Regions from separate parts of the Homo sapiens genome. Here region 2 is linked to region 1. The links come from fine-mapping of genetic effects on gene expression. A gene starts in region 1. The other region holds a variant in brackets. All regions are shown on one strand. Distances are from middle to middle.

Region 1 (5,239 bases):
TGAGTGCCCCCTCACTGGGGATCCTCAGCAGATACTCTTTTCACCTTATAATAGGCCAAGGTTCACCTCCTTATCTCCTGCCTCAGGATCTGACCTCTTTTTAGTTTAAATATACTACTATAACAGTAGTATAATTCACTTCCTTCAGGGAATATTTTACCTTTGCCATATGGTTGTGGTTTTACCCCATCCCAAACCATCTTAATGACATCATAATACTATTATCTGACAGCAGTGCATCTCCCCAAATCTGTATTATTCAGTTTTAAAAAATAAGCAATGAATAACATTCTTTGGAGAGCAATTAGGAACTGTTTTTCATTTCTTCTGCAGTACTCCACTCCCTTATCCCTGCAAACAATTGCTCAAAGGTCAATACAACTGTTGGAAAATACAAATCAGAAGTGAACAGTGTAAACTTACATTATTTCACTCTCAAACAGAAGTTTCAGAGACTTATAACTGAAAAAGATCACACTACTTATGGTTGTAAAAGAACGTAGCTTCTCACCCTGAAACACCAGAATTTACTCCAGGTCCTTTAGGAGTATCTGGTGTTAAAGCAAACTAAATATGGCCTGAGAAGGACTCCATACATCTATACTTGAATCCTTGTGGATGAACTGTAACCTAGCTTAACAGACAAGATTGAAAACCTAACTTAGAAGTATGCGTCTCTTACAATAAGCGAGTCTTGGCCAATTCCAGCCGCCACACTTCAATCACTCATAGACTGCTAAGTGTTCAAATAAGGCCAACGCCAACCTGTAACCAATCCAGCTGTTTCTGTACTTCACTGCCAATTTCTGTACCTCATTTCCCTTTTTTTGTCTATAAATCTTCCACCACGTGGCTCTGCTGGAGTCTCTTAATCTGCTGTGATTCTGGGGGCTGCCCAATTCGTGAAATCGTTCACTGCTCAATTAAACTCCTTTAAATTTAATTCAGCTTAAGTTTTTCTTTTATAACTGGTAAACAACTGGAGACCAGGTAGGGTCTAAATGCTTTATTTATCAGCTTAGTCTCCACCTTAGAAGTGACAAACATTCTCCGTTTGGCCAAACTTCGGGCTCCTGGGCCTTCTCCTAGGACCATCTGTGCATCTTCTTGTAAAACTCAGTTTCAGCAAAGAACCTTGTTAAGGCAGTGTAGTGAGAATCCCTCACCCTTGATGGGGTTCCTCATCCTCCACCACCCCCAGGTGATGTCTGCTATCCTGGCCTATCTTCGTCTAGAATCCTGTTGTGTTGGTTTAGCCAGAATCTCCCTTGCCCCTGATATTTCCTCTTAGTAATTTTCCATCCACTGACCGACTTCCACCCCTTGGCTATAAATTCCTACTTACTCATACTGTATTTCTATTTGAACAGGTAAGGGAGAAGGGAAGAGTACGTAGGACACACTCAAATGCCTTATCCTCTAAAAATCACTCAGGAATCTTTAGCCTTAATTTCCCAGCTTTTGTCCTTTACACAGTTACAGATTTTCCTTGCTCATAAACGCTGTAGGTCTTCCCTGCTTAATTGGAAACTCCTTGCTCACAAAATGATTCACCCCCATTCCTAGAACCGGGCTTGGCAAAGCATAGGCTCCCAATAATGAATGAATGGATTTATAGAAGAAAAGGTTTTTTCTTTTTCAGCTGTTACTACAATGGTCAACAATAACGACAAAAACCACTTAAAGTTGGACAGACGTCTACTGCAACCAACTCTCAAAAAGTTTAGAACAGCGCACTACGCCCCGCCCATTGGCGAGAAACGGAAATACCCGCTTTCGAGAAAACCGGAAGTGCGTGGTCACGCCCCGCGCATGCGTGCATCGGGGCAGCTCACGCTTCCTAAATCCCGTCATCCAGTGAGAAAGCAGGGACTCTTCGGCCTAGGCAGCCGGGACCCAGCCAGCCCTGCGCCTCGCGCCGTCGCGCATGCGTCCTGGGTATGTCCACGCGCAATAAGGAGGGGCGAAAGGACATTTTTTTTTTTCTTGCTCCCGCCTCTGTTCTTCCCCCACCTGCCACGTACAGAGCCCAAGTTCTCGCTAGGCTTGTTGGGTCAGCGCGATTGGCCGGGGCCCGCGCGAGCCTGCGAGCGAGGTGCGGCGGTCGCGAAGGGCAACCGAGGGGGCCGTGACCACCGCCTCCCCGCGACGCCCCAGTCCAGTGGCCTCGCGTCCGCCCATTCAGCGGAGACCTGCGGAGAGGCGGCGGCCGCGGCCTCCGCAAGCCGGTATGGCCACTGGAGACGGGGGTTGCGGGCGCTCTGTCCGAGGAGGCCGGGAGACTAGGAGGCGCTGGGAGGGCCTCGTTCGAACCGCGCGGCAGCTGGGGTCGGAGGCACTGTGGGAAGGGGCTGGAGGGAGGAGGGGGTGGGAGGGAGGAGGGGGTGGGAGGGAGGACGAGGCCGGGGGGGAGGGCGGGCGGGGCCTTGCATGGGGGGAGGGGAAGGGAGGTCGCGGAGGGGGAGGGGAGAGAGGCAACCCCTGGCTGCGGTGGCCAGGAGGCGCGCCTGGGGGGCTCCGGGAGGGGAGTGCGCCAGCTAATGCCTTGGTGCAGCCTGCCTCCAAGCGTTTGGATTGAGAGGAGAGGGGCTTTGGGAGGTTTGGGGCGGCCGGCGCCCAATACCCGAAGGAGCTCGGAAGGGTGTGGAGTGGCGCCTACGGGAATAAGTTGATTGGGGTCATAGAATCGGAGCCTAGTTCCTTGGCTAAGTCAGCGCTTAATCAAGCGCCGGCTGGAGGCCCAGCCTGGTTTATAGTGATGATTCTAGCTAACTTTAAGAGTTTGCTTTGCTGGACACTACAGTAAGTATTTTGGATGCACTGTCTCATTTAATCATCACAAGGATTCCTCCAAATTCAGATATGGTTGTTTTCATTTCGAATGTGATGAAAGTGAGCCTTGGAGGACTTAAGATCACATAGCTAGTAGTGAGAATCTTTACCGTCTTGCTGCACTGCCTTTGAGGCAGGGTTTGAGGCCTCTTGGCATTCTTTAGAATAATTACAGGTTGACTTGGCTTAGTATTTCTTGAAGGAAACTGCTCCCCTCAGGAGGTGCTTAAGCCACAGCCTCTGAAATTGAGCAGGGTCTTACCCTTAGAGGTAGTAGAACCAGAAGTTTGTCCGCCGAACCTAGAACCTGGTTCAGGAGGCAGGCTTTTTATATGACCTTGGGCGTGTCAGATTATTCCCAGTGCTGAGAAAAGTGTACCTGGTAGAGGGTTATATTATACAAGTTAGAAGCCGAGTCATTTCTGGACTTCAGAGGGGGCGGGGCAAGGACAAGATGGGAGAAGAGCTTGTCGTAGGGCTCCTACTGGCAGTTCTAGGAACTAGTTAATACCAGTCTCTACTTTGGAAGAGAAAATGAGTACCAGAATTCTGTATGTGAAGTAATGTTGGGTTGGGATTTCCCCTTGAAGGGAAAGTTTTGTTGCACACTTACTTTTGAGATACTTTTGTGTTTACTCTGGGGAGATGACTGCAAGAGCAAACGACAGCTTTAGGAAAGAAGCACTGGTTCCTGGCCACAAGATGTTTACAGTCAATAGGAAACACAAAAAGTGAATTTGCAGGTAAACACGGCAGATAGAAAGTATACGTGACTCAATTTTTTTTTTTTTTTGAGACGGAGTCTGGCTCTGTCGCCCAGGCTGTAGTGCAGTGGCGTGATCCCCCAGCTCACTGCAACCTCCGCCTCCCGGGTTCAAGCGATTCTCCTGCCTCAGTCTCCTGAGTATCTGGGATTACAGGCGTGCGCCACGACAACTGGCTCATTTTTGTATTTTTAGTAGAGACAGGGTTTCACCCTGTTGATCGGTCTGGTCTTGGACTCCTGACCTCGTGATCTGCCCGCCTCGGCCTCCCAAAGTGCTGGGATTACAGGTGTGAGCCACCGTGCCCGGCCCTCAAATTTTAAATCCATTGAAATTGGGCAACAAACCCGTACCCCAGTCAGAAGGACATACCATCAATTATCTTCAAAGCTGGAATTTTTTTCTTAATTAGGAGTGTGTCTGATGGAAGTCACTTCTAGCTACATAAAGAAGGTACAGTGTGAGGGGTCGGATGTAAAAACTGATCTATATTACAGCTTTCTTCTCCCATAATTAAAAAATTTAAACAAAGTCTTTAAATTCTATATGTCAGGCACTTTTCTAGGTGCTGCTGGGAATAGATAGTACCAGCTCACTGAAGCTAAGCACTGGTTCCTTTTACATTATTGCTGGTTTACACTTCTTGTAGGAAGGAGAAGGTAACAAATACATTGATTTATTGAAAGGTCTTTATTACTCTTAGGCTGCCAGAGCAAGCAAGATGGAATATTTACCATCTTGGTGAAGTAATTATACTTTAGAGTTGGCACATAGTAGGTATTTAATAAGTAGTTCCTGAATACCGAAAGCATTGCAGAAGGCATTGCAGAAGGCGAAGAGTTGGTTGTGTGGAGATTTCTGTTAATCACTGTCTTCACGAGAAGTCCATTGTGAGAACTGGCAGATAAAAAGCTAACTGTATTCTTATTTTGCATTAAGATAAGCATGGCATCCCTAGAGTGGAATGCAGTTCACTCTGTTCTGCATTGACCTTAGAGTGTTATATTTAGTTTTAATGACCCATTTCATTGAAGATTTATTAATAAAATATCTGTTGAGAGCATGGTGAGGGGTCTAGAGATATTAATTTAAGGACTAGTTAGATGGAAGGACCTAGCGTATTTATATGAAGAATAGTAGGGCATTAATATATAATATTCATATAATAGGATTCATGAAAACTTTTTTGAAGTACTTGAAGGGTTGATATGTTGGGGGAGTAGGTGAGTGCTTTCACATACCCCGAAAGAATAAAGAATAATTGCAGAGAAGTGTGGTGTTAATGAAATAACAGATTTAAGAGGAGGAAGCAGAAAGCTGCTAGTAGTAAGGCGGGAAGTTGAAACTAGAATGTGGCCAGTAGTAGTTTGTAGGATACCTTGAAAAGTCTCAAGAGATCATTTTCTTGGGGCAGGAGGAGGAAGGAGTTATGCTTGGAAAATGTTCAGCGATTATAGATAACATTCAGGAACATCTTGGCCTTGAGAAGAAGAGATATTAATCCATTATTTTTCCCTTTATTTAATAGCTGTTGAATGACTGTTGTCTGCTAGGCACTGTTGTAGACTCTGGGAATATGGAAAACATAATCGTTTACTTCCTACCATCAAGTGGAAAAGACAATAAAATGTTATAAATTTTTA
Region 2 (5,239 bases), 110 kb before region 1:
CTATATCCCAGAGGTTTTGATAGGTTGTGTCATTATTGTCGTTCAGTTGGAATAATTTTTAATTTCCATCTTGATTTTGTTTTTGACCCAATGATCATCAGGAGCAGCTTATTTAATTTCCATGTATTTGCATGGTTTTGAAGGTTCCTTTTGGAGTTGATTTCCAGTTTTATTGCACTGGGATCTGAGAGAGTGCTTGATTTAATTTCAATTTTCTTAAATTTATTGAGATTCATTTTGTGGCCTATCTTATGGTTTATCTTGGAGAAAGTTCCATGCACTGTTGAATAGAATGTGTATTCTGCAGTTGTTGGATGAAATGTTCTGTATATATCTGTGAAGTCCATTTGTTCCAAGGTATAGTTTAAATCCATTGTTTCTTTGTTGACTTTTTGTCTTGATGACCTGTCCAGTGCTGTCAGTGGAGTATTGAAGTCCTCCACTATTATTGTGTTGCTGTCTGTCTCATTTCCTAGGTCTATTAGTAGTTGTTTTATGAATTTGGGAGTTCCAGTGTTAGGTGCAAATATGTTTAGGATTGTGATATTTTCCTTTTGGACAAGGCCTTTTACCGTTATATAATGTCCCTCTTTGTCTGTTTTAACTGCTGTGCTTTAAAGTTTGTTTTGTCTGATATAATAGATACCCCTGCTCACTTTTGGTGTCCATTTGCATGAAATGCCCTTTCCCACCCCTTTACTTTAAGTTTATCTGAGTCCTTATATGTTAGGTGAGTTTTCTGAAGGCAGCAGGTGGTTGGTTGGTGAGTTCTTATCCATTCTGCAGTTCTGTATCTTTTAAGTGGAGCATTTAGGCCATTCACATTCAGTGTTAGTATTGAGGTGTGAGGTACCATTGCATTAATGATGCCATTGTTGCCTGTGTACCTTGGTTTTTTGTTTTTGCTTTTAAAATTGTGTTTTTGCTTTATACGTCCTGTGTGATTTATGCTTTAAAGAGGTTCTGTTTTGATGTGTTTCCAGGATTTGTTTCAAGATTTAGAGCTCCTTTTAGCAGTTCTTGTAGTGGTGGTTTGGTAGTGGCAAATTCTCTAGGCATTTGTTTATCTGAAAAAGGCTGTGTTTTTTCTTCATATATGATGCTTAGTTTTGCTGGATATGAAATTCTTGGCTGATAATTGTTTTGTTTGTGGAGGGTGAAGATAGGGCCCTTCTAGATTGTAGGGTTTCTACCGAGAAATCTGCTGTTAATCTGACAGGTTTTCCTTTATAGTTTACCTGGTGTTTCTGTCTCACAGCTCTTAAGATTCTTTCCTTCGTCTTAACTTTAGATAACCTGATGACAATGTGCCTAGGCGATGATCTTTTTGCAATGAATTTCCCATGTGTTCTTTGTACTTCTTATATTTGGATGTCTAGGTCTCCAGCAAGGTCAGGGAAGTTTTCCTCGATTATTCCCCCAAATATATTTTCCAAACTTTTAGATTTCTCTTCTTCCTCAGGAACACTGATTTTTCTTAGGTTTGGTCGTTTAACATAATCCCAGTCTTCTTGGAGTCTTTTTTTGTATTTTCTTATTCTTTTTTCTTTGTCTTTGTTAGACTGGGTAATTTGAAGACCTGAATTTCTTTCTTCTACTTGTTCAGTTGCATTGCTGAGACTTTCCAGAGCATTTTGCATTTCTCTAAGTGTGTCCAACGTTTCCTGAAGTTTTTCTTTATGCTATCTATTTCCTTGAATATTTCTCCCTTCACTTCTTGTACCTTGTTTTTGGATTTCCTTCATTGGGCTTTTCCTTTCTCTGGTACCTCCCTAATTAGCTTAATAACTAACCTCTTGAATTCTTTCTCAGATAAATCAGGGATTTCTTCTTGGTTTGGACCCATTGTTGGTGAGCTAGTGTGATTTTTGGGGGATATTAAAGAGATTTGTTTTGTCATATTACCAGAGTTAGTTTTCTGGTTCCTTCTCATTTGGGTAGGCTCTGTCAGGGGGAAGGTCTAGGGCTGAAGGCTGTTCAGATTCTTTTGTCCCATGGGGTGTTCCCTTGATGTAGTACTCTCCCCCTTTTCCTACGGATGTGGCTTCCTGTGAGCAGAGCTGTAGTGATTGTTATCTCTCTTCTGAGTCTAGCCACCCAGCAAGTCTACCCAGCTCCAGGTTGGTACTGGGGGTTGTCTGCACAGAGTCCTGTGATGTGAACCATCTATGGGTCACTCAGCCATGGATACCCGCCCCTGTTCTGGTGGAAGTGGCAGGGGAATGAAATGGACTCTGTCAG[C/T]GTTCTTGGCTTTGGTGGTTTAATGCTCTATTTTGTGGTGGTTGGCCTCCTGCCAGCACGTGGTGCTTTCCAGAGAGCATAAGCTATGGTAGTATGGAGAGGAACTGGTGGTGGGCGGGGCCTTGTAACTCCCCAGAGTATATGCCCTTTGTCTTCAGCTACCAGGGTGTGCAGGGAAGGCCCATCAGGTTGGGGCAGGGCCAGGCATGTCTGAGCTCAGACTCTCCTTGGGCATATCTTGCTTCAGCTGCTGTGGGGAATGGGGGTGAGCTTCCCAGGTCACTGGAGTTGCGTACCTAAGAGGATTATCACTACCTCTGTTGAGTCATGCAGGTTGTCAGGGAAGTGGGGAAAGCTGGCAATCACAGGCCTCACCCAGCTCCCACGCAATCTGAAGGGCGGTCTCACTTCCACCATGAACCCCCACAAACAGCCCCGAGTCTGTGTCCAGGCAGTGGGCAAGCAGGGCTTGAGAACTTGCCCCAGGCTACCTGCCTCCCAGCTTGGAAAGAAAAGGACTTTGGTTCTTCCCCTGCTTGTGGAGTCTGCATGCCGGATTCTTGTTCTGCCCCGAGTTCTGGCCAGGAGGCTTCTTGCCTGGTTCAAATTGTTACAAAGTTTAGCTAAAGATTTCCTTCTGTTTGTGGCATTTCCCCCCACACCTCTGGCTGCCCTCTTGAAGGATCCCTGTGGTGCCAGGCAAGAGTGGCCTACTTGGGGACCCGGGAAGCTCCCAGGGCCTTTCCCGCTGCTTGCTCTACCCCTGTATTTTGCTTGGCTCTCTAAATTGACTCAGCTTCAGGCAAGGTCAGAAACTTCTCCTGCAAACTAGACCCTTATTTTCCCCAGTGGGGGTATGTGTTCGGGAGCAGTGAATCTTCTTTTCCCACTTCGGCAGTTGGGGCACTCACAGCATTTGGGGGTCTCCTGGGTCCTGCAGGAGTAGTCTGCTTCCTTCAGAGGGTCTGTGGGTCCTCTTGGGATTCCTGGTTTGTTCTTGCAGTCGTTCTGCAGCTAAAATTCACAATACAAGCCTCTGCACACTGCTCTGTCTGTACAAGTCAGAGCTGTAAGCTAGTCCTGTCTCCTGTCCGCCATGATGATCAGAAACTCCCACCCTTTTACTTCTTAATAGTACTATGGCCTGTAAGATGCAGTGGAGGCGAGGTCTGCAGTTGCTTCTTAGCGACTGGATTATGCTCCTTTCTTGGGGGAGTGCATGTGGAGCCTGACTTCCTCTGCTGCCCCAGCTACAGCTGTTAATTGATTTCATTCTTTTTTTATGGCCCAATAGTATTCCATTGTGCATATCTACCACATTTTCTTCATCCATTCATCTGTTGATGGACAGTTAGGTTGATTCCATATCATGGCTATCATGAATAGTGCTGCAATAATCATGGGTGATTTCTCTGACCAAGAGAATATGGTAGAAGTGACACTGAACAAGTTCTGGTTGTAGAATGTAATGCCCAACCTTGTTTTTACTAACGCTGTTTTTAGACTCTCCCTTTCCTTTAATCACCTAGCCTTGTTTCCACCTGAATTGACTCTCCTTTAGCTAAGAGAGCCAGACAGACTCCATCTTGGCTCTTTCACTCGCAGCCCCTTCCTCAAGGACTTAACTTGTGCAAGCTGACTCCCAGCACATCCAAGAATGCAATTAACTGATAAGATACTGTGGCAAGCTATATCCGCAGTTCCCAGGAATTCGTCCGATTGATAATGCCCCAAGCCCCGCGTCTATCATCTTGTAATAGTCTTAAAGCTCCTGCACCTGGAACTGTTTACCTTCCTGTAACCATTTATCCTTTTAACTTTTTTGCCTACTTTACTTCTGTAAAATTGTTTTAACTAGACCGCTCCTCCCCTTTCTAAACCAAAGTATAAAAGAAAATCTAGCCCCTTCTTCGGGGCCAAGAGAACTTTGAGCATTAGCCGTCTCTTGGCCGCCGGCTAAATAAACGGACTCTTAATTCATCTCAAATTGTGGTGTTTTCTCTAACTCGCTCAGGTACAACAGACTGCCAGAGGTCTTATTTTCCACTGTTGCTGTCTTAGAATTCAACTGCTATGTGAAGAAGCAAGGTTATTCTGTTGAGGAGGCTTCAGGAAGAAAGAGGCCCTAGCGGAGAAAAGACTATGAGGTAAAGAAAGGTCCAGCTGACTTAGCCTTTCTAATCAACTAGCTAAGACCCAGACAGGTGAGAAAGGCCAACTTGGATTCTCCAGCTCCAGCTGAGCTTCCAGATGACTCAGCTAAATAAACATGAGGAACAAAGCTATCTCTGCAGAGTCCTGCCCAAATTGCATGGTCATAAGCAAATGAATGGTGATTGTATCTTAAATCCCTAAGTTTTGAGGTGACCTGTTGCGTAGCAATAAATAACTTACACTGATCATTTCATTAAATAATTATACTTTACTAAATGGAAAGAATTAGGATCCAGAATATTATCTTGTCAACATGTAAAGGATAGTGCTGTTTCACACAGGACATTGCAAATTTCAACCCATCTTGCTCAGATCAGCTTATGACTTCCTACTACTATTTTTAGGACTAGTGTTTATACGGGACTATTTCTCAGATGATTCTCTTGCTTAGTTACTACAAATTTGGGGTTTGCCTTTCACTTGAATTGGGCTTTCTAGAACGAAAAGAAGAAAATCAAACTATTTCCTACACTGTGCCTCTCAACTTAACCATGACTGTTTCTCTGCTCTTTTAATCTTTACTATACACCTCTGCCAACCAGCTCAGACTTTGGAGATGGAAAATGGAAGAAATAAAAGAGAAAGCGAAAAAGAAAGATAAAGGAAACGAATCTGCAGAGATAAACAGAGGAACTGATGTTCTCTAGAGCAAAATGAAGAAGTAAATTTGAAACTAAAAAAGACTTTCGGGAGTTCCTTTTCTTTCATCTTCTAGAGCACAGAGAGCTTCATTCAGGGTTACATGAATCAGAGTCCAGCATCTCCCATGGGCACATATTTTAGT

Which allele goes with the higher level. Positions count from the first base shown, and alleles are read on the strand shown. Sizes are in standard deviations (SD) of each study's normalised expression.
As copies of C replace T in region 2, the expression in platelets of the gene that starts at base 2,001 in region 1 goes up (large effect, 1.1 SD a copy in CEDAR).

Evidence for each region. PIP is the estimated chance that this variant, and not a neighbour inherited with it, causes the effect.
Region 2: its variant is the best candidate, but not a certain one, in a credible set for the expression of TFG in platelets (CEDAR, PIP 0.85).

The regions. Positions count from the first base shown.
Region 1 is chr3:100,707,494-100,712,732 of GRCh38, forward strand. It overlaps TFG (trafficking from ER to golgi regulator), which reads left to right and starts at 2,001. Exons shown (of 8, transcript NM_006070.6): 1 at 2,001-2,228. RefSeq lists enhancers at 1,569-2,460, 2,461-3,351 and a silencer at 2,098-2,327.
Region 2 is chr3:100,598,159-100,603,397 of GRCh38, forward strand. No RefSeq gene overlaps it. Among named protein-coding and RNA genes, the nearest start is that of ADGRG7, 8.8 kb to the right of the region's middle. RefSeq lists an enhancer at 4,961-5,230. The variant C/T (reference allele first, on the strand shown) is at 2,242.